3 separate regions of the Homo sapiens genome follow, and all the other regions are linked to region 3. Evidence: fine-mapped expression QTL. A gene starts in region 3. Each other region holds a variant in brackets. All regions are shown on one strand. Distances are from middle to middle.

Region 1 (5,000 bases), 63 kb after region 3:
GATTAATGTTTTAAAAACACTGAGTGATCAATTTTAGGACCTGAGTGTGTGTAATGTCTTTTACTGTACATTTCCTATGTGATTTCTCTACACTTCACTTTTCTCACCTATAAAATGGGAGAAATGATCAGTATTATATGTAGATTTAAAGATTAAATGAGTGTGTGTGTGTGTGTAAAGTGCTTACTTAGTATGGGACCTGGCTAGAGGAAGTACGCAACAAATTACAACTGTTTTATTTATCTCTTTTAACAACCTTAGTTTTAGGTGATATTGAAGCTCATAGTGGTTAAGTAACTTTTCCAAAAGGTAGCAGGGTAGGATTTAAACTTATAGCCACATGATACCAAAGCTGTACTCCAAACCACTATAAATACACATGCCATTTTATACTATTAGCGCAGTTTATATTTCTACTGACCTTAATAATTGATTGATGATACTTATTTTCCTATATTAATAAGGTTAATCCACTAAAATTATATTGAGCACAGTAGTACCATTTGTAGAGAAGCAGAAAATCATAGTGTTTACAAAGGGAGGCTCTTCCACTCCTAGTTACATACCCAAGAGAAGTGAAAAAAATATGTCCACACAAAAAGCTGTATGTAAATGTCCAAGTAGCATTATTCCTAATAGCCCAAAGTGAAAACAACCTAAATGTCTGTCAGCTGATGAGTGGAAAAGCACAATGTGATATATCCATACAAGGGAATGTTATTCAGCAATCAGAAGCAATAAAGTATTAGTAAATGCTGCAACATGGTTGAACCTTCAAAACATTATGCCAAGTGAAAGAAGCCAGATACAAGGCCACAGTATGGTACTGTTTATATGAAATGTCCAGAATAGGCAAATTCAGAGATAGAAATCATGTTAGACCGTCAGGGGCTCCGGAGAAGGGCAATAGGGTGTGGCTGCTAATGGGTACAGAGTTTTGGGGGTTTGATGAAAATGTTCTGGAATCAGATAGTGGTGATTATTGCACACTTTGTGAGTATACCAAAAACCACTGAATTGTACACTTTAAAGCAGCTAATTTCATGGTACATGAATTATATCTCAATTTAAAATGGAAGAGGGGAGGCTTTTGGTGTTTGAACCTCAGCTTTCAGATTTGCTACTTGTTAGTTATATGTCCTATACAAGTAACTTAACTTTTTCCTTGCCGCAGGTTTTCTTACTTGTAAAAAAAATGTTTAATTGTAATATAGTCTTCAGAGGATTGCTGTAAAAATTATACATAAAAGCCTATAGTAATAGGGTCTTGCAAACAACAGGCGCTCAGTAACTGTTAGCCATTGTTATTAATATATCCAATTTCAACATGGGCAAACATGGGCAATTCTGATTTACCTTTATAATAATCTTGTGTGATATGTTCAGTATTTGGTATATGGAGTCAGAGAGTCAGAGTATACCTCCAATCTAACTTTTGATTTATAAGTGAAATAGGAATATAATGTTAGTTTGAAGTATTAACCATTCACACTTTTTTACATGAGTATCAACTTACGAATACTAAGCTAAACACCTTTATGTATTGCTTTTAAATGTATACTTAAAGGCTGAGGTGGGCAGATTGCTTGAGCCCAGGAGTTTGAGAACAGCCTGGGCAACATGGCAAAACCCCATCTCTACAAAACATGTGAAAATTAACCAGGCATGGTGGTGCATGGCTGTCATCCCAGCCACCCCAGGAGGCTGAGGTGGGAGGATCGATTGAGCCCAGGAGGTTGAGGCTGCAATAAGCCATGATTGCACCACGGCTGGGTGACAGCCTGGGTGACAGAGCAAGACCTTGTCTCAAAAAAAAAAAAAAATAGTATACTTAAAGTGCTTCTTAATAACTAGTGATAATGGCTTTCTATATTGAATAAGTTTCATGGTATGGTCTAGTTGAAATTTGAGAAAATAGACTTAAAAGTCAGTTTCTTATAATTAGGGCGCTTTGTAATTCATTATTAAACTGCTGCCAGTTTTGTTGATTACTTCCCTGTCAGTTTAAAGTATGTTTTTAATTGATACAGATTCAGCGTTTGTTGGAAGCACAGTCTCTGATGCCCTGTTCCCCTAAGACAACTGCTGTTGAAGACACAGTGCAAGCTGGAAGACAAATGGAGTTGGTTTCTGTGGAAGCACAGTCTTCCCCTGGCTTGCACATGAGAAAAGGTGTAAGCATTGCTGTGAGCACAGGTAATTTCAGTTTTTTTTTAATTTGTAAGGAAATTGTTAAAAATGCTTTTCATATCTGGTTTTTGAATTTTATGTTCAAATTGGTGCATGGTGCAGTAGGACCAAAACCAAGGTGATGAGAGTATGACTTAAGTTTTTGTGTGATTTTAGTCTTTGTGAAATAAAACTACACCTGCAAACTGCATAACATGATAAAGTGTTTGATTTTGCTACTTTTCTAGGCTGGACCCAATTCTGGTTTTTTTTTTGTTTTTTGTTTTTT[T/G]TTTTGAAATGGAGTCTCGCTGTGTTGCCCAAGCTAGAGTGCAGTGTGGTGCACTCTCAGCTCACTGCAACCTCCACCATCCTAGGTTCAAGCAATCCTCCTGTCTCAGCCTCCCAAAGTGTTGGGATTACAGGCGTGAGCCACCGCGTCCAGCCAGTCTTGTTTGTATTAATTTATTTTCATAAAATCACCCAAGTATATCCTCAGAGTAGAAACCATTTTGACTATGATTTACTTTTTTTTTTTTTTTTTTTTGAGACGGAGTCTCACTCCGTCACACAGGCTGGAGTGCAATGGCATAGTCTCGGCTCACTGCAACCTCCGCCTCCTGGGTTCAAGTGATTTTCCTGAGTAGCTGGGACTACAAGCGCCTGCCACCACACCTGGCTAATTTTTGTATTTTTAGTAGAGATGGGGTTTCACTATGTTGGTCAGGCTGGTCTCCAACTCCTGACCGCATGATCCACCCACCTCAGCCTCCCAAAGGGCTGGGATTGTATTACAGGCATGAGCCACTGTGCCCAGGCTACTTTTTGGTTTTAACCATCTGTTTAAACCATTATGTATTAGCAATATTCCCCAAATTATAGAATGCCTATGGCTCGTGGTACAAAAGATGATTTAGGGTGTTATACAGATTAATATTTATATTTTGTAAATATATCTTTTCCAATACTCATAGGTATAAATACAATAAGCATATCAAATCTGTGATTTTAGAGAAATAATGAGGCTCAGTAAAAAAAGAGTTAATTTAAAGAAAGAGTAAGTAAACAATATTACATGCAAATAGCTCTGAAGATAGGTGTAAGTGCTTCATAAAGATTGAGAAATTGGCTGGGCGCAGTGGCTCATGCCTATAATGTTTGCACTTTGGGAGGTCAAGGCAGGTGGATTGCCTGATGCTAGGAGTTCGAGACCAGCCTGGTCAAAATGATGAAGCCCCATCTTTAAAAAAAATACAAAAATTAGCCACATATGGTGGCGCACACCTGCAGTCCCAGCTACTCGGGAAGCTGAGGTGGGAGGATCACCTGAGCCCAGGGACGTTGAGGCTGCAGTGAGCTGTGATTGTGTCACTGCACTCCAGCCTGAGCAACAAAGTGACACCCTGTCTTAAAAAAAAAAAAAAAAAAAAAAAAAGATTGGGAAACACTTGATTTTTTTTAATACCTGCCTGATATTACAGATATTACAGATGTCTGATGCATCACCAATGTAGTCTTTTAAATATTGCATTTAAGTGTCAAAACCAGAGAACCTAGGGATTTGTATTTTATATATTATCTCATATTATTCAGAGCAGCAGTTTTCAACATACACACCCCATCCCACGGATCATATTCAGAATCTTAATATGTAAAGCAAATCATTTCAGAGCCACCCTTCTTGAAAAAGCAGAACCCAGAATGTGCCCTTCCACCCGACCCGTCCCCTAGTGTTTTGTCTTTCTGTCTTCCACCTACCTCTTCCTGGCATTTCTGAGGAAATATAATCTAAAAACTTAGTTCTAAGTAATTGTGTGTGTGTGTGTGTGTGTGTGTGTGTGTGTGTGTGTATATATATATATATTTTTTTTTTTTTTTGAGCCAGAGTTGCCCAGGCTGGAATGCAGTAGCACAATCACAGCTCATTGCAGCATCGACCTCCTGGGCTCAAGTGATCTTACACCTCTGCCTCCTGAGTAGATGGGACTACAGGCACACCACCACACCTGGCTAATTTTTTTGTATTTTTTTTGTAGAGACAGGATTTCTCCATGTTGCCCAGGCTGGTCTCGAACTCCTGAGCTCAAGTGATCCTCCCGCCTCTGCCTCTCAAAGTGTTGGGATTATAGGCGTGAGCCATTGCACCCAGCCAATATGGCTATTCTTAACAAAGGTTTGGCAGAGTATTATTTTTAAAGTTGAATGTTTGTTTCAGTATCTTAAATTATTTAACCTCCAGGTGCTAGCTTGTTTTGGAATGCAGCAGGTGAGGATCAAGAGCCTGACTCTCAAATGAAGCAAGATGATACCAAAATTTCCAGTGAGGACATGAATTTTTCTGTCGATATTAATAATGAAGTCACAAGTCTTCCAGGTAGTGCATCTTCATTAAAAGCAGTTGATATTCCCAGTTTTGAAGAGAGCAACATTGCTGTGGAAGAAGAATTTAACCAGCCACTTTCTGTATCCAAGTAAGGTCTCTTTGATTTAGTCTTTCATCCTACTTTCAAAAAAAATTTTTTTTGATAGACAAATAATAATTGTATATATTTGTGGGGCACAATGTTTAGATGCATGTTTACAGTATGGAATGATTAAATCAGACCAACAAATCTATCACTTCACATACTTAACTTTTTCTGTGGTAAAAACATTTGAAGTCTACTATTAGCAATTTTGAAATATACAATGTATTATTATTCATTACAGTTGCTGTTCTGTTCAGGTTTTTTTTTGTTTTTAATTCTAATTTCTTTAAAGTCTTCTAACTCAGAAATGATATATTTTCTAACTGGTATTTTCTTTTATGTCTTTACTTGATATGATTTCTATGT
Region 2 (8,676 bases), 91 kb before region 3:
GGAATTCTGTATTCACTGGGAACAGAGGTTGTAGCTCAGATCATCAATAGAACTACGTGTTCACTAAGAACAGAGGTTGCTTCTCTCCCATCAGTCCCCATCTTTGAGGGGAGGAGAACATGTCTCCCTCTCAGACAGAGTTTATCCGTGGTTTCTGGCTGTAGCAGTCATTGGATTTGTCTGTTGTTCTCTCTGCCTCAGTTTCCTCCTTTTAAAATGGTTGTGACAAATCAAACCAGCTTCCAGACTGAGCCCTGCCAAAGTCTTCCAGGGGCTCCACATTGCTTGTAAGACAAAATGCAGTTTCCCTGGCATGATGAGCTGAACATGCTTACAGTTTTTGCATGTCTCGGCCCTCTGTTGAAGGAAACCTTCCCTCCTGTGTTCCATGTGGTCCTGACGGGGCTATCCAATTTGTTCCCCTCACAATTACTCCCCAGGAGCAGACAGGCAACCAACTGGGTCATACATACCATTGCAAGTTCAAGGCCCAGTGATTGGTCCAGGCAGTGGTAAGTGACCTAAGTAGCCAGTCACCCCTTCTACATGATTTGACATATGGACTCTGAGATTTGGGACTATGTAGACCATGGGACTGGCACTCTGGGACTCTGGGAGGAGCACCTCTCCTTTTGGATCAGAAGACAAGCACACAGGCTTAGCTGTCAGAAGCCATCTCCCTGCCACATGGAGAGTGCTGTTTGACATCAAAGCCCACACACAGAGGAAAACAGCCTAAAGAGAGAAAGAGACTTAAAAATAGTGTTTGAGTCCCTGGATCCAGCTCTGCCTGAAACTGGAACCCCTAGACTTTCCAGACATTCAAAAAGAAAGAAATCTCCCCTTTTGCTAAGCTAGGTTGAGGTGGATTTCTGCTAGTTGAGTTGAATTTCACAAATAGCCTAGCCACAAAAGAGAAGAATCCTGGGTCTCTGAGACCACTGAACTGCCATACCACCCTGAACTGCCTGCACTGACTGTTATGTAAAAGAGAAATAAACTTTGGTCTTGTTTAGACCACTGATGTGGGATTGGGGGGGCCAGTCTGTCATTCACAACTGAACCTAACCCTGCTTAATGCACGAAAGTTTGAGAAAATGTCCTATAAACACGAAAGAAAGGTCTGAGGTAATTAGCCTGGAGAATAAAGGCTTAACACAGCCAGCATCTCCCAATCTCCACAGGGCTCATCTGGGGCAGAGACACCAAGGCAAAAGAGAGCCAGAAAGGGGTAAAAAGCCTCACTTTCTGTGTCTCCATGCAAGGAGAACATTCTAACAGGGCTGTCTCTGAGATGTAGTAGATTACCTCGGTGGCTCTGAGTTCCTTGTCACTGGAAGTGCTAGAGTGGAGGCTGGGTAATCACTGAGTATGAATCATAGAGGCACCCAGGTGTAGCAAGAAGAGTTCAGGTCTTAGAGCTGGGTTCAAATTACGCTCTTACCACTTATTAGTCTCAGACAAATAATCTCTGTAAGCCTGCATTTCCTCATTTGTAAAGCATCCAGATAGCTGGGTTGGAAACGGACTAGGGAAATTTCTTATCCTGCTACCTCATGGGGACTCCTGAGACCTAGTGCTCTAGCTGGAGCCCGTCATGGATCAGGATGTCTCAGTGAGGTGCCTTGCCCTCCTCTCCAACCTTGACATGTTCAGGGACACCTCCATCCTGCCATGAAAATGCATTACCCACTGGTTTGTTCCTGCAACTGCAGAGGAACAGTGGGGCCTGAGCCAAGAGGCCTGGGCCCTACTCTCTGTCTTCTCCCTGACTTCCTATGTGACCTCAAGCATGCCCCCGCCTCTTCCAAGGCCTCAGTTTCCTCATCCAACATATGAGAAGTGTATCTCCATCACAGACAATCTGGGTCTAGAATCAGGGCTCTTAACTACTGTGCCATACCTATCACAACAATAATCATCATGTTACTGCCTGGCCTTGCCCTGCCCAGCCCCCTCAAGGTCTGCTGGAACAGGCTACTCCTCATCCTCTGCCTAGGTCAGCCCAAAATGGTGACAACTGCTACATGAGCTGACATCACAGGCCTGGGCAACCCAGAGGTTCCCAGTCTGCCAAGGGCCTCATTTCCAGCCTTGAAATTTGACTCCCCATTAGTTACATGAACACCTCTCACAGGGGCTCTGTGTGATCTTTCCTCATCCACACCTTCCTTCAAAGTTGGGGCCACTCATATCTGGGGGACTAGAGGCAATGAAATGGGAAATCTGAAACAGTAGTGGAGCAGATCTTACAGCATTATCCTATGGTCAGAAGAAAGGAGTCACAACTGGGGACCCAGATGGGGAGACAGCACCATTTGGCAGGAAGCCTGGAGGCCTGAATGGTGGAGGTCCAAAAAGCTGGTTCCCTATACCTGCCATGGATGCCCAGGATTTGGGGGCTAAAAAGGAAAAGGAGCCACCACCCTGAATGGATTGACAGCCACGGCACAGCACACCCCAGGGTGGGCATGGCAAGTACCCATGCTTCCCAAATCCAGAGGCCAGGATACCTTGTGAAGGGACTGGTGGCAGACTGATGGAAAGGCCCTGGAGAAGAAGGCAGTCGGGTTTGAGAAGGTGAAAATCTGACTGTGGTCATCAAGGGTCCCTTTGAGAAATAAAAGAGGACTGCTGTTGAAAGGAGCCAGTGTGACCACACAGGGGACGTAGTGCCTTGACAAAGGCTGCATGGAAATCCACTTCCAGGGATTTCTCCTGCTGGTATACCTGCACACATATGGTATGACATATGTACAAAGTCACATTGTGGTGCTGTTCGGAATGTCAAAAGGTTGGAAACAACATAAATGTCTATCAAGGACAGGTTAAGCAAATAATGAAACATCTGAAAAAGGGACCAGTATACTGTAAAAGTAGAATATAGAAGTTCTTTATGTACTCAGCTGGAGAAAGCACCAAGATACGTTGTTTGTTTGTTGTTTGTTTTTGTTTTTGAGACGGAGTCTCGCTCTGTCTCCCAGGATGGAGTGCAGTGATGTGATCTTGGCTCACTACAACCTCCACCTCCCGGGTTCAAGCGATTCTTCTGCCTCAGCCTCCCGAGTAATGGGATTACAGGCAAGTGCCACCACACCTGGCTAATTTTGTATTTTTTGCAGAGACAGGGTTTCACCATGTTGGCCAGTCTGGTTTCGAACTCCTGACCTCAAGTGATCCACCCACCTTGGCCTCCCAAAGTGCTGGGATTGCATGCATGAGCCACTGCACCCAGCCAAGATACATTGTTGAGTGAAAAAAAAATTTCAAGATATATAGAACAGTGTAAACATGCATCCAATTGTGTTTTTCAAGGAGAAAATAATGTATACTTGTATTGGTTTACGTATGAAACAAAAATATCTAGAAGGATGAATAAAAATCTAGTAACTGATTATACACTAGGGCAAATTGGAAACAAATGGGAGACTTCATGGATGACTTTTTTATATTTGTAAAGTGAAGTGAATGTATTACTTATTCAACAATTAAAAACTTTAAAAGAAACAGTTGGATTATTTCAATAACTAAGACTGAGTGTGCAGAACATAAGAATAAAAACCATTACTATGAGCTGAACACTTTTTATGGGCTCCAACTTGAAAATATGGTTGGTGGCTATGAATGTTGAAAGCAAGGGACGTGAAGCCAGACATGTGAGGTGCCTGTG[A/G]GTATCATCTGCCTGCCCATCAGACAGGGAAGCAGTTGAGTCTGCTAGCTAGGACCCCAGATTTTCTGCCTTTCCTCCTTCCTGTTCTGTTCCCATCCCTCTGTCTTTGGCTCCCTCCCTCTGTTCGTCCCATCTAAATTACTTTGAAAGTCTGCCAGCTGGACAGGGGTTAGGATGGATAGAGGAAGAAGGGATTTCACAGGAACAGGAGCAGCAGGCCCTCCCCTCCCTCCTTTCAGAACTCCAACCCACCACCTTCAGGAAGCATTCCTTTGTGAAGCTCACAAAACCCCAGCCCCTTCATAACTCAAGGGAGACAGACTGATGCCCAGGGTGGGACCTGTGTCTCCCTCAAGCAGGGTCCAGGCCTCTTGTCTCTAAGTCTCATCAACTCCCTAAACCCCAAGTCCAGCCTCCAGATAAGGGCAGTTCAAACCAAAGCTGCAGTATGCCCAGCTCTGGCCAGGCTGCCCAGTGAGGGACATAGTGGAACAGAGAAGACACAGGCGCTGTCTGGGAAGCCCCAGTCAGGCAGGGTAGAAAATCCTCACCCATCATCACAATGCTTTAGCAGTCACAAAGGCCATCCCTACCCAGACAGAGAGGATCGGGCACATTCTCTATTTCGAGGTAGACTGAGGCTGAGTCAGGATAGAGGCTGGAATTGGTGAGTGACCAAGGAGACCTAGCAACCCCTCATCTCATAAAGCATTCTACATACTATATTGTCATCTGCCAATATTTGAGCTCTCTGAGCGGGGACAGTGTCTGATACATCTCTGAGTCCTCAGCTGGGAAAGAGCACAGGACCTGGCACAATCAAGGGACTTGGGGAGAGGCAGTAATTGCTATGAAGTGCAGAGAAAGTAAAGGACTTGCCTAAGTGTTTGACCTGAGACTAGACCCCAGGTTTTCTGCCTCCAGCCCAGCCCCCTTTCCTCTGTCTCCCTCTTACAGAGTAGATAAATTGTCTGCACCTAGGGCCACCAACCTCACACCCATTCCAATTCCATTTGCAGTGGAGCAACTACCAAAGCCTGTCAAGAGGAAGTGGGGAGGGTGAAAGATCTGGGAGGGTTTTCTAGAGGAGGTGGGAACTGCAGCTAGTTTTCCTCTTCTGCACCAAACAATTGGTTTCCCTGCTGGAGCAAGTGCCTTTCAGCCACCAGGGGCTCCTGCCAGCCCAAAATAGCATCCAAATGGATCCTGACTTCATTCCAGTGATTTCCTGCTCAAATCAGGTGCACACGAGGTGGCCAATAGGTGGCGCTTTTATCTCCAAAAATTGATGGGAGAAAGGAGATTAGAAAGAGGGAAAGGGGAGAGAGGAGTATTCGGGTGTGAAAAGGGTGTGGGGAGTGGAAGACAGACAAAAAAAGAGGAAACCAAAGACCTGTCATCACGGCTGGAAAGGCTCTTTTCAAGATCGGGACAGTGGGTGCGGGTGTAGGGGAGGAGGATATTAGGGTGAACTGAATAATTTTATTGGTGCCTGGGGCTTTTCATCCAAGTTTCCACCTCCACTTGTTTCTTCCTGAGAGAAAGGAGAATGACTTTGAAGCCAGGCAGACCTGGAAGCAAGTCCTGGGTCAGTCACTTTGCAGCTTGACCTGGGTAAGTCACTTAACCTTTCTGAGCCTGATTTTCATCATCTATAAAGGTGATGATGCACAGTTCCTACAATGGGGAGCAAATAATTCTAAGAATGCCATCTTTGCATTCCAGGAATAAACTGCACGATTGCATATTTTTTTTGTAATACATTACTAAGTTTAATTTGCTGATATATTGCTGACAAGTTTTGCATCATCTTTCATATGTGAGATTAGGCTATATTTTGTGTATTCCTTTATCAGGTTTTGATAACATAATTAGATAACATAGTCCGTAGAATTGGGATGACTTCCATTTTTTCTGTGTTCTGGAGCAATTTATGTAACTAGAGAAATAGGTTCCTCAATGGTTTGACAGAATTCACAGGAAAAAAACAGCTAACCTAGGTGCCCTCTGGTGGGAGCAGTGGAGGAACCATCTCTGACAATGTTGTCTGTTCCTTCTGGGCTAATAGGTATATTGAAATTAGTTACTCTTTAAATTAGGCAAGCCAGATCAGCGGTGACTACCAGCAAAATGACCACTCCAAGCTTTCAGGGTTGGCCTGAGGCTATGATTAAATGGGAAAGCGTTTGGCCTTGGTAGATTAGGATGGTAGATTAGGATGATGTTAGCCAATGGCTGATTCTTTCTATATAGCTTTGCATATCTACTTTTTTCCACTTGCACCTCCACCTCTACCAAACCACCACCCTTTCCTGCCTGGATGCTGCAGTAGCCTTGTAACTGGTCTCCCTACCCCACCCCAGGGCCCCTCTAACTCTGTGTCCGTGACATATTTAGGGCTATGAAATTTCCTCTGAGCACAAGTTTGACTACATTCTTTAGATTTTAATATGTACTGTTCTTACCTTTATTAATTTATAAATAGTCTGTAATGACAACTTTCTTCTAACCAAAGAGTTATTTATTTAGATAAATGTTTTAAAATGTTTAATTGCTTAGTTTGAAGTATGGTCCAAGAATATATACTTTTTTTTTTTTTTTGAGACAGAATTTTATTCTTGCTGCCCAGACTGGAGTGCAATGGTGCAATCTTGGCTCACCGCAACCTCCGCCTCCTGGGTTCAAGCGATTCTCCTGCCTCAAGCTCCCGAGTAGCTGGGATTACAGGCATGCACCACTATGCCCGGCTAATTCGTATTTTTAGTTGAGATGGGGTTTCTCCATGTTGGTTAGGCTGGTCTTGAACTCCTGACCTCAGGTGATCCGCCCGCCTCGGCCAAAGTGCTGGGATTACAGGTGTGAGCCACCGCACCTGGCCCAAGAATATATTCTTATTCATGTGGGAATTTATAAAACTTTTTGAATGTTGGTTTTTTTCGCTATAATAAGCACATTCATATAAGCATATTCTGGATCACTTAGATGACTTCCTTGTAAGAGATACCTAATACTTGAAGTCTTTATTTCCATTTATTATCAGGTAATGCTACTTTAATCTTGAGATGAGGCAAAAAAACAATGTAGATTTTATACATATATGCTGTATTTGGGCCCATTGGTATCATGGCCTGCTACATGAAGGAATGCCTGCAGTTCATTCAAAAGGAAAAAATGGTGTTAGCCAGGCATGGTGGTGCAAGCCTGTAGTCTCAGCTACTCGAGAGGCTGAGGCGGGAGGATCGATTGAACCCAGGAGGTCAAGGCTGCAGTGTGGTATGACTGCACCACTGCACTCCACCCTGGGTGACAGAGTGAGACCCTGTGTTAATCAATCAATCAATAAAATTAAAAATGGTGACTTTAGTCATCACATGGCCCGAGGAATGACAAACCCAGAAAACCTGCTATGGAGAAGTCAGAGCCACATTCACGGAGCAAGTGATGTAGTCTCAGCAAAACTATATATATATATATATATAGTTTTTGTTTAGTTTTGTTTTGTTTTGTAGATGGAGTCTCACTCTGTCGCCAGGCTGGAGGGCAGTGGCATGATCTAGGCTCACTGCAACCTTCGCCTCCTGGGTTCAAGCGATTCCTCCGCCTCAGCCTCCCGAGTAGCTAGGACTACAGGCAGGTGCCACCACGCCTGGCTAATTTTTTGTATTTTTAGTAGAGATGGGGTTTCACCATGTTAGCCAGGATGGTCTCGATCTCCTGACCTCATGATGCGCCCACCTCAGCCTCCCAAAGTGCTGGGGATTACAGGCGTCAGCTACCGCGCCCAGCCACAATATATTCTTTTACATTTGACTAATGTTATGCACTTGAATTTTTATTTCATTGTTTGAATTTAATTTATAAACAATTTTAACAATCACATAAGAAATACAAGTCTAAAGAATTTATACCTGCAAATACTGACATTATAATAAAAAAATTAAAGTCAGTACTGGAAGTCCACAGAATTCTTTCCCTTTAAAAGTAAACCACAATAACCTGTATCGTGCAAAATCCCCTCACCCCCATACTTCTAGGATCTCCCAGAGAGGTAATACACTTGGGCTCAAAACCAATCCAGTCACTACAGTGGAGGGCTCTCTTGAAGGAGCCTCTCTGTTACCATGTTTGCCAGTGTCACTGCCAAGGGTGTCACTTTCCTATGTACTCAATTTTCCATGTGCCAGGGTAATGTTGGCTTCCTTCTTAAATGGATCCAGGAGGCCCTCAAACCAGCTCAGCACCATCCTGGGCCCAAAGCTACCCTCCCTGTGTTCCAATTCCCTCTAAGTCAGGAAGTCACCCCTCTCAGGGCTTCTCCTCTCAGGTTTCCTTCTCCTGTAAGGAAATCTCCAGAGTTCTCCTGCCCTGTCCTCCTGCCAAAACTCTTAACCCCTCATTTCCATAATACTCCACCACCTTCCCTGCTTCCCTACAGGTAAAGCATACTAAGCTGAGAAAATATCTCCCATTCTCTGATTCCCTCCAAAAAAAAAGGTCTACAGAGAAGCATAGCATTGACGCAAATATTTCATTGTCAAATGCCTGCTTAGCTTCTCATGCTAAAACAATTTCAGATGTGCAAAGTTTCCAAAAAATTTTACCTCGACTGAAAAAAGGGAATAAACTAAGAAAAAAGGGAAGATAGGGATATCAGGAAGTAGAAGATCCAAAACAGGACACAGAATTACCAAGGTAATGGTGAAGGGAATTTCCAGATCCAGCTCTGTTCAGCCGACCTGGAGCACCATCAGTCCAGATGAGCAGAAGGTTGGAGGGTTCTGGGAGAGATGCCCCAGGAAGGGAAAAGCACAACCACCAAAAGCAATTATAGGTTTCCTGGTAAGTTTGACCTCATCTCATGAAAAGCTGTACCACAGTGTTACTGGAAGGTATGGGAAGATTTAGCTTCCCATAGATTTAGCTTTGTACCTTTGTAGGTGCAAAGGAAGTTGAACAAATGAAAAAATAAGGCAGTATTAAGTCCAGGTAAAATAAAAGGTTGCACA
Region 3 (8,676 bases):
ATATTTCTTCCAACTAATGCATGTAAAATGGTGGTTATTTTCAAATATAAATTTAGGTTACATTGACATAATTTCATTTGGGCCAAAACAACAAATATAAATAAAGCTTAATTTTAAAAATTCAAGAATGACACAGTATTCCCATCATGATTTTATAACTAAATTATTGCACAATAATTCCATTCTGGAAACTTAACTCTAAGTATCACACTGATTTAGAAAATAGCTCATTTTCAAAAACAAATTCAGTATTAGAGGATACAGATTTACAAACAATTAGAAAATAAAACAAATTCTCCAAGTCTGGGTATTTGGTAAAAAAAAAAGAAAAGAAGAAAAAGAAAGAACAGGAAGGAGGGAGGGAGGGAAGGAGAGAGGGAGGGAGGGAAGGAGAGAGGGAGGGAGGGAAGGAGAGAGGGAGGGAGGGAGGGAAGGAAGGAAGGAAGGAGAAAAGCAAACAAAACTGAAAAACATCAGTACAAATAAATGTGCAAAATCAATCCCAAAACCTCCCTCCAATCTTTCCTTCCCAGTACAGAACACTCTCAGAAGACACTGTATCAGATTTGCCTTTACCTTCTCTAGGTCTCCAGGAGCAATTTGCAGAGCAGAATTCACCTCCAGAGAAAAAATACCAGCTTCCCTCTAACAATACCCACTTCACTAATTTCAGTGCCTTAGAGAGCAAGATATCCCTAAGGGTTTTTGGTTTTCTCTTTTTCTTCTCTTCCTGTCAACTGAAGATTCTGTAGCTAGGACTCAAATATGTACTTCTGGCAGCCTGAGTTGGAAATCAACATACTAAAGTAACAATTTCAGGTGCCCTGTGAGCTGCATTAGCTTCAGCCAGATTAATTGGAGAATTTACCGTGGATTTATGTAATTTTTTTCCTACAGGAAAAAAACCTCCAAAACTTACATTATTTTGGAATTTAGTTTATAATTGCCTGTATAAAAAAATATTGAGTCAAAATAAAGAGATTCACAAAGGAAAAAAACAACATACCGCTGACTTCACTAACAATAGATATTCCAGGCCGGGCACAGTGGCTCACACCTGTAATCCCAGCACTTTGGGAGGCCAAGGTGGGTGGATCACGAGGTCAGGAGTTCGAGACCAGCCTGGCCAACATAGTGAAACCCCGTCTCTACTAAAAATACAAAAATTAGCCGGGCATGGTGGCGCGCACCTGTAGTCCAAGCTACTCGGGAGGCTGAGGCAGAGAATCGCTTGAATCCAGAAGATGGAGGCTGCAGCGAGCCAAGATTGCCCCACTGCACACCAGCCTGGCCGACAGCGTGACACTTCGTCTCAAAAAAAAAAAAAAAATAGATATTCCAGTGTCTGTCTAGCCAGCTAGGGAATAGCAATTGCTAAATTATAAACTATTTGGAATTAGTTGATTGACAGCTTAATAAAGTTTATGGCAACTAGACTCAAGAGAATACTTTTCATTAAAGAAGATAACAGTTTAAGGTCAAATAATTGTTGAAATCTTAATAATATAATACATTACAGAACATATCTCATCATGGAATCTTGTAACTGATAATTAACAAGTTTAAAATATTATTTGCCATTACTGAACAGAATAAAGAATAATTGCAGAATGTGTAGATTATTTCATTTATGTATTTATTTATTTATTTATTTTATTTTTTTGAGATGGAATCTCGCTATGTCACCCAGGCTGCACTGCAGTGGCGTGATCTTGGCTCACTGCAAGCTCCGCCTCCCCGGTTCATGCCATTCTCCTGCCTCAGCCTCCCAAGTAGCTGGGACTACAGGCGCCTGCCACCACGCCCGGCTAATTTTTGTATTTTTAGTAGAGATGGGGTTTCACCTTGTTAGCCAGGATGGTCTCAATCTCCTGACCTCGTGATCCACCCGCCTGGGCCTCCCAAACTGCTGGGATTACAGGCGTGAGCTACTGCGCCCAGCCCTGAATGTGTAGATTATTTTTTAACCAGTGTAGTAGTATGGGTATTATTAATTTAGGTACAGATATTTTAAAGGCATATTATGATTCAGAAACAGCATACTGTATTTAAATGCATTCAAATATAACACGCATAAAGTAATTTAAAAGAAAAATACTATTTTGCAATAAAAATAACCAGGCCAGGCATGGCGGCTCATGCCTGTAATGCCAACACTTTGAGAAGCCAAGGCAGTAAGATCCCTTGAGTCTGGGAGTTCGAGACCAGCCTGGGCAATATAGTGAGCCCTGGTTTCTACAAAAACCTGAAAAAAAGTTAGCAGAGAGTGGCAGTGCACACCTGTCATCCCAGCTACTTGGGAGACTGAGGTGAGAGGATGGCTTGAGCCCAGGAGGCAGAGGTTGGAGTGGGCCAAGATGGTACCACAGCACTCCAGCCTGGGTGACACAGAGAGACTCGATCTCAAAACAAACAACAACAACAAAACCCACCAATAAAAATAACCAATATAATAAGATCAGGAAGTTTAAAGTAGAGGTAATAAGATCAGAAGTTTAAAGTGGAGAAAAAAACTATCTGCATCTGTCTCTGTGTGCCAGATATTTTACCTCATTTAATATTCACAAATACCATACAAAACAGCCATTTCTATGTTTTCCCTTTTCACAGGGAACTAAAGGCAACAACATCTCTGGGCCTAGAGAAACAGTAAATGGCAGAGTCAGGGTTTGAACCTATATCTCTTTGACTCTAAAGTCTTTGCCCCTTCCCCCATCATGCTATTTAAGAAAGATCACATATACTAAACAAAAATTTGAAATCACTCCCACTTTTCACTTGCCATTTATTTATTTATTTATTTATTTCTGAGACGGAGTCTCGCTCTGTCGCCCAGGCTGGAGTGCAGCAGCCAGTCTCTTTACTTTTTAAAAGACAAGTGACAAGGCCAGGCACGGTGGCTCATGCCTATAATCCCAGCACTTTGGGAGGCTGAGGCGGGCAGATCACGAGGTCAAGAGTTCGAGATCAGCCTGGCCAACATGGTGAAACCCTGTCTCTACCAAAAATACAAAAATTAGCCAGGCGTGGTGGCGCACGCCTGTAATCCCAGCTATGCAGAGGCTGAGGCAGGAAAATCGCTTGAACCTGGGAGGCGGAGGTTGCAGTGTGCTGAGATCGCACCACCGCACTCCAGCCTGGTGACGGAGTGAGACTGTCACAAAAACAAAAACAAAAACAAAAAAACAACAAAAGAAAGAGAACCAACAAAAAAAAATTTTTTTAAGAGGATGTAAATGTTATGTATTTTTTTAGTTGGACTAGTTCCACTTTGACACCTAAAATGATTTTTTTTTTTTTTTTTTTTTTGAGACGGAGTTTCACTCTTTCGCCCAGGCTAGTGTGCAGTGGCGCGATATGGGCTCACCGCAACCTCCGCCTTCCGGTTTCAAGCGATTCTCCTGCCTCAGCCTTCGGAGTAGCTGGGATTACAGGCGCCCGCCACCACGCCAGGCTAATTTTTGTATTTTTAGTAAAGACAACGTTTCGCCATGTTAGCCAGGCTGGTCTCGAACTCCTGACCTCGTGATCCGCCAGCCTCGGCCTCCCAAAGTGCTGGGATTACAGGAGTGAGCCACAGCGCCTGGCAAAATGATCAATATTTATAAATACATCTGTCCAACACATAATGACTTGTTGAACTCATCTAACTTTCTCTGGATGCTATTTAGGGAATAAAATACAGGACAGGAGTTGATTGTTATGAACATATAAGGAGAGAAGCAAAAGCCCCATGCTAATATTGGCCATATCCTAGAAGAGGAGGAAATTATAAGTTCTAGGTCAAAAAAACTTTTGTTGGTTACAGGGTTTCAGAGTGATTTCACTAGAGGCCACCAATGGTCGCCTCTTCTGTTTCTAGATATCCTGTTTTCCTTCTTTCCCAAGCATTCCCCAGATTGTCCATGAAGCCTTTTTTTCCCACAGTGTCAATGCAGCTAACCAACCATACATCTAGCTCAAAAATTGTTAAAAGAATTGAACTGGTAACCTGTCTCAAAGCAAAAGAAAAAAAAGTAACAGCATTTTACATTTGGGAGGTGTTTTATATCCTGAGAAAATCTGGGTTCAGAGACTCTTTTTACTGTATTACAAGGGCTAACTGAGGCTGGGAGACAGGAAGTGACCGAGGGCCGAGCGTGAGTTGGCAGCAGGGCCAAAGGTTGAAGCTTGATCTCAGAACAGCACTCCCGGCTTTCCCCATCCCCGACCCGGGCCGAGCCTCAGGGCTGGCTCCGCCCTAAAGCTTGCGGGGACGGGGCTCGAGAGTGCCAGCGGCAGCCCACAGCACGCCTAAAATAACACCCCGCCCCACGGGCCTCCTTTCTAGAGTAAAGACACGTTCGGTGACAGTGCGGAGTTTAGGGAACCAGAGGGAAGGCGCGGAGAAGAAAAATAGGTCTCTCCTTCAGACAACTGTGGGCGCACACGGCCTCTAACCCAAATCCGCGCTCCTGCTGCCTTCACCTGCCACACGATCAGCGACACGCTAACCTCTGCGCGCTGGGGGACCCCCAAAGGTTGGCCTCCGGGATCCCTCTCCCAGCCCACTCTAGAGACGAATCTGGTCCCCAAAATGTAAGAAAAGAAGGGGCGCAGGAACAAAGCGACCTCAAGCGGTGGCCCCCAAGGCGGGCGGGCGCGGACTACAAGTCCCGGCACGCCGCGCGCCGGCGGCCCTCGGCCACTGCCACGCGGGCGGCGCGGTGGCCGCCGGGACTCGTAGTCTGCGGCTCGGCGACTCCGCGGGGCGCGGACTAGGGGCGGCGGGACAGGCCGGCCCGCATCCCGTCAAGCCCCAAGGAGCCCGCCTGCTGCCCGGGCCTCACCTCGACGATGCGGGCGCACTGGGTCCCCTTGCCGGCGCCGGGGCCGCCGAGGACGAACACGACCAGCGGCTTCATGAGACGTGGAGAGCAGAGGAGAATCGGCCGGCGGGTCTGCAGCAGGAAGCTAAGGCCCAGGACGTGGAGCAGCCCGCTGCGGCAGCGGCTCAGCATACACCGCGCCTCGGCCGGACGCTGAGGGAGCTGACAGCGGCCGGCGCGGCGCGGGGCGGGGCGGGGAGGCGGCGGGAGAAAGGGGCGGGCTGAGCCGGCGCCCGCCGCGGCCCCGCCGCCGTGGCTGCCCGGGCGTCCGCGGCCCTGTCGGAAGGGGAGGAGCTTCGCACGGCGGCGGCGTCTCGGCGACACTCGTGCGGTCCGCGCCAGCTTTCCTCCAACCCTTGGGTGGTTATTAGTGCTTTCTGACTGCAGATATTTTATCCTGCGCCCTCAAGTGTCTGGTGCTGAGCTGGAGGCTGGGACGTGATCCGCGGGAGAGCAAAACCTATTGTCTCTGCTCGCAATGAGTTTCCATTCCAGCCAGTGAGGTATGGGGAGGTAGCCAGTGTGAATGAGTAAACACCAGTACATACAAAAGGCAGTACGATTTTGAAGAAATAACAAGTAGGACATAAGATGGCCAGGGTCGCCAGAGAAGGCTTCAGAAGAGGTGACATTCAAGCCAAGACAAAAGGATAGAAAAGAGCGAAACCAGGCAAACACCAGGATAGAGTGTCCCACAGAGAAAAGCATGTGCAAAAAATCTAAGTTGGTTTGGCATGTTAAAGCAATTGAAGGAAGGCCTGGCTGGGCGCGGTGGCTCACGCCTGTAATCCCAGCATTTTGGGAGGCTGAGGCAGGAGGATGGCTTGAGCCCAGGAGTTCGAGACCAGCCTGGACAACATGACGAGACCCCGTCTCGACCAAAAATTTAAAAGCCGGGCACCGTGACCCGTGCCTGTGATCCCAGCTACTGGGATGTTCACTTGAGCCTAGGAGCCGTAATAGCACCACTGCACTCCTGCCTAGGTGACAATGAGACTGCTTCAAAAAAAAAAAAGGAAAAAAGGCCAGTGACAGTGAGACCAGGGCTGAGTCAAATGAGGGGAGAATGGAAGGTGAAAAGTTGAGAAAGTGAGGTCGGTGGCAGATCAGGACTTTTGATTATGGAAAGGAATTTGGGCTGTATTCTAACAGCAATGGAAGCCCTTTAACTCCGTTCGCCTGCCCCCTTCATTAGGGAAGAATCTTAAGGGAGAAGAAAAGGAGACGTTCAAGAACTGAGCCTTGGTGCATACAGGCCTTTAAAAGGCCTTCTGGCCAACGTTAAGAGCTCATTTGATATTTGAGGTAACGGATTCAAAATAATTGAAGATGTTTGGCCATTCAGGCACAGGCAGAGAAGGCAGCTTGTTGCATTTACTGAGGGTTGGGATTTTGCCTGGCAAGTACAACAGAGAGAGGGGGCCAAGTGATGAGAGTGTTTGGAAGAGAATGTTCATGATGCTGTGTGTAGAATCAAAACCATACAGGAAAGCAAATAATGGCACATGAAGCCTGGTAGTGGAGGGGTTGGAGGGTGGTGGGGAAAGGGACCAATGTCTTAGAGCATTGGCCCAAGAAAGATTGCAGTGGGGTATATGAGCAAGTGCTCTGGCAGTATGGATGCTGCTGGTCTGAGTGGGATATTTGGAATTGAAATGTCCCAGCTTCTGAGTTTCTGATGATGCCAAGGTCCAGGGTGAGACCATGGGAATGGAAGACTGAGGCAGAATGCATGTCCTGTTTTTAGAACTAAGAGTCCAGGGTGTTAGATTTGTCGTACAGGTACAAGTTCAAGTCAGATAGTGCTGGAGTGAACAAAGACTATGGGAAAGGAACTAAGCTGTTTAGGGCAGAGTGACCAGGACGTTAGTAAACGAAAGCAAACAGGAGAGGAAGATAGTGGTATAGCCCTCTGTCTGACCACCCCCATTCTCCTTTTTCTTTTGGTGGTCCTTTCTTAGCTCACTCAGCATTTTCTGGCTCTTCCCCATCTCTACTCTCTCTCCTTGCTTTCTTTTTGTTGTTGTTGTTTTTACTTATTCCCATCCTTCCTACCCTTCTTTTCCCATTTATAAGTCCCTCCCTTCTCCCTGTCTCTTTTCCTGTCCTTCTCCTCACCTACTTGCCTTTGTTTGCCCTTCTTTTCCATTCTCCCTTTAATTTCTACCTCTTTCCTCTCCACAACTTCTACCTTTTCCTTCCCACCATAGAAAGGAGAATGGGATATTTTTTATTATCACAGCTGGAAAAAAATTTTTTTGGGGGGGATAGAGTCTCACTCTGTCACCCACGCTGGAATGCAGTGGTGCCATCTTGGCTCACTGCAACCTCCACCTCCCAGGTTCAAGCGATTCTTCTGCCTCAGCCTCCCAAGTAGCTGGGATTACAGGCACCTGCCACCACCCCTGGTTAATTTTTGTATTTTTAGTAGAGAGGGGGTTTCACCATGTTGTCCAGGCTGGTCTTGAACTCCTGGGCTCAAGTGATCCTCCTGCCTTGGCCTCCCAAAGTGCTGGGATTGCAGGCATGAGCCACCGCGCCCAGCCAGGCCTACACTACACTACAGGTGGTGGTGTGCACCTGTAGTCCCAGATGCTCGGAAGGCTGAGATGGGAGGCTGAGGTGGGAGGATCCCTTGAGCCCAGGAGGTGGAGGCTGAGGTGGGAGCAGCCCTTGAGCCTAGGAGGTGCAAACTCCAGTGAGCCAAGATCGTGCTACTACATTCTAACCTGGGCAACAGAGCCAGACCCTGTCTCAAAACAAAAACAAAACATTTTTCTATGGATACTGAAATTTGAATTTATATAATTTGCATGTGTCCCAAAATATTATTTATTTTTATTTTTAAAATCCATTTTAAAATGTGAACATTATTTTGAGCTTGAAGGCTATACAAAAACAGGGACCCACGTTTAGATATGTGAATTTTCACATAAAAAAACACGGCCGGGCGCAGCGGCTCATGCATGTAATCCCAGCACTTTGCGAGGCCAAGGTGGGCAGATCACCTGAGGTTGGAAACCAGCTTGGCTAACACGGTGAAACCCCAGTTCTACTAAAAATACAAAATTAGCTGGATGTGGTGGTGCATGCCTGTAATCCCAGCTACTTGGGAGGCTGAGGCAGGAGAATTGCTTGAACCCAGGAGGTGGAGGTTGCAGTGAGCTGAGATCGCACCACTGCACTCCAGCCTGGCGACAGAGCAAGACTCTGTCTCAAAAAAAAGAAGGCTCCAAACCCTTCAGCTTCTGGGGAGGAGGAGCTAGGACATGGGCAGCCAAGAACAAGGACAATTGGTCATATTGGGAATGGGTAGCAGGAGTATGAAAAAGGCCATATCAAAACAAATGTGTCTTCTTTTCCTTTGTTCACACAATTAGAGTTAAAAGATCTTAAGGATATGGTGTCTGTGAGAAAAAGGGCTAGGAAGCTATTGGCATACTTTTAGTGAAGGCCTTGGGCTAGAGACAAAAAGACAGTCTTTGTTGTTTCCATGATAGAACACCAGAACTAAGGATTCCACACAGGGGTTTGGGTCTGAAACTTCCTAGTAAACCTACTTAAAGCAATATGTGGTGATTTTTTTTTCACAGAGAAAAAAACTTTCTGGATAATTATGACCACAGTTGGTTGAGTACTTAATGTCCTGTTCCTTGCCTGTCTCCTTCTGCCAGTTATGTTAGGCAACTAAGGAAAATATTAATGTGGAAAGATTTCTAAAAACTGAAACCCAGACACCCATCTCTGCGAAGGGTTTTCCAGGGAGTCATTTCCAGGAATGACAAGGTGAGGCAAAAAAACACTTTAT

Direction of the effects. Alleles are on the strand shown, and positions count from the first base shown. SD is a standard deviation of normalised expression in the study named. Not every link is listed here.
As copies of A replace G in region 2, the expression in monocytes after R848 of the gene that starts at base 5,156 in region 3 goes up (moderate effect, 0.59 SD a copy in Quach 2016).

What was found. PIP is the estimated chance that this variant, and not a neighbour inherited with it, causes the effect.
Region 1: its variant is the best candidate, but not a certain one, in a credible set for the expression of CMPK1 in whole blood (TOPMed, PIP 0.76).
Region 2: its variant is the best candidate, but not a certain one, in a credible set for the expression of CMPK1 in monocytes after R848 (Quach 2016, PIP 0.52).

Annotation. Positions count from the first base shown.
Region 1 is chr1:47,269,272-47,274,271 of GRCh38, reverse strand. It overlaps STIL (STIL centriolar assembly protein), which reads left to right. Exons shown (of 17, transcript NM_001048166.1): 13 at 2,031-2,196; 14 at 4,406-4,637. Among named protein-coding and RNA genes, the nearest start is that of TAL1, 40 kb to the right of the region's middle. The variant T/G (reference allele first, on the strand shown) is at 2,459.
Region 2 is chr1:47,420,810-47,429,485 of GRCh38, reverse strand. The region is part of intron 1 of LINC01389 (long intergenic non-protein coding RNA 1389); the gene reads left to right. Among named protein-coding and RNA genes, the nearest start is that of FOXE3, 8.9 kb to the right of the region's middle. The variant A/G (reference allele first, on the strand shown) is at 3,671.
Region 3 is chr1:47,330,270-47,338,945 of GRCh38, reverse strand. CMPK1 (cytidine/uridine monophosphate kinase 1) reads right to left here and starts at 5,156. Exons shown (of 6, transcript NM_016308.3): 1 at 4,830-5,156. The coding sequence starts at 5,000. RefSeq lists enhancers at 4,034-4,093, 3,610-4,413, 4,414-5,217 and a silencer at 4,604-5,243.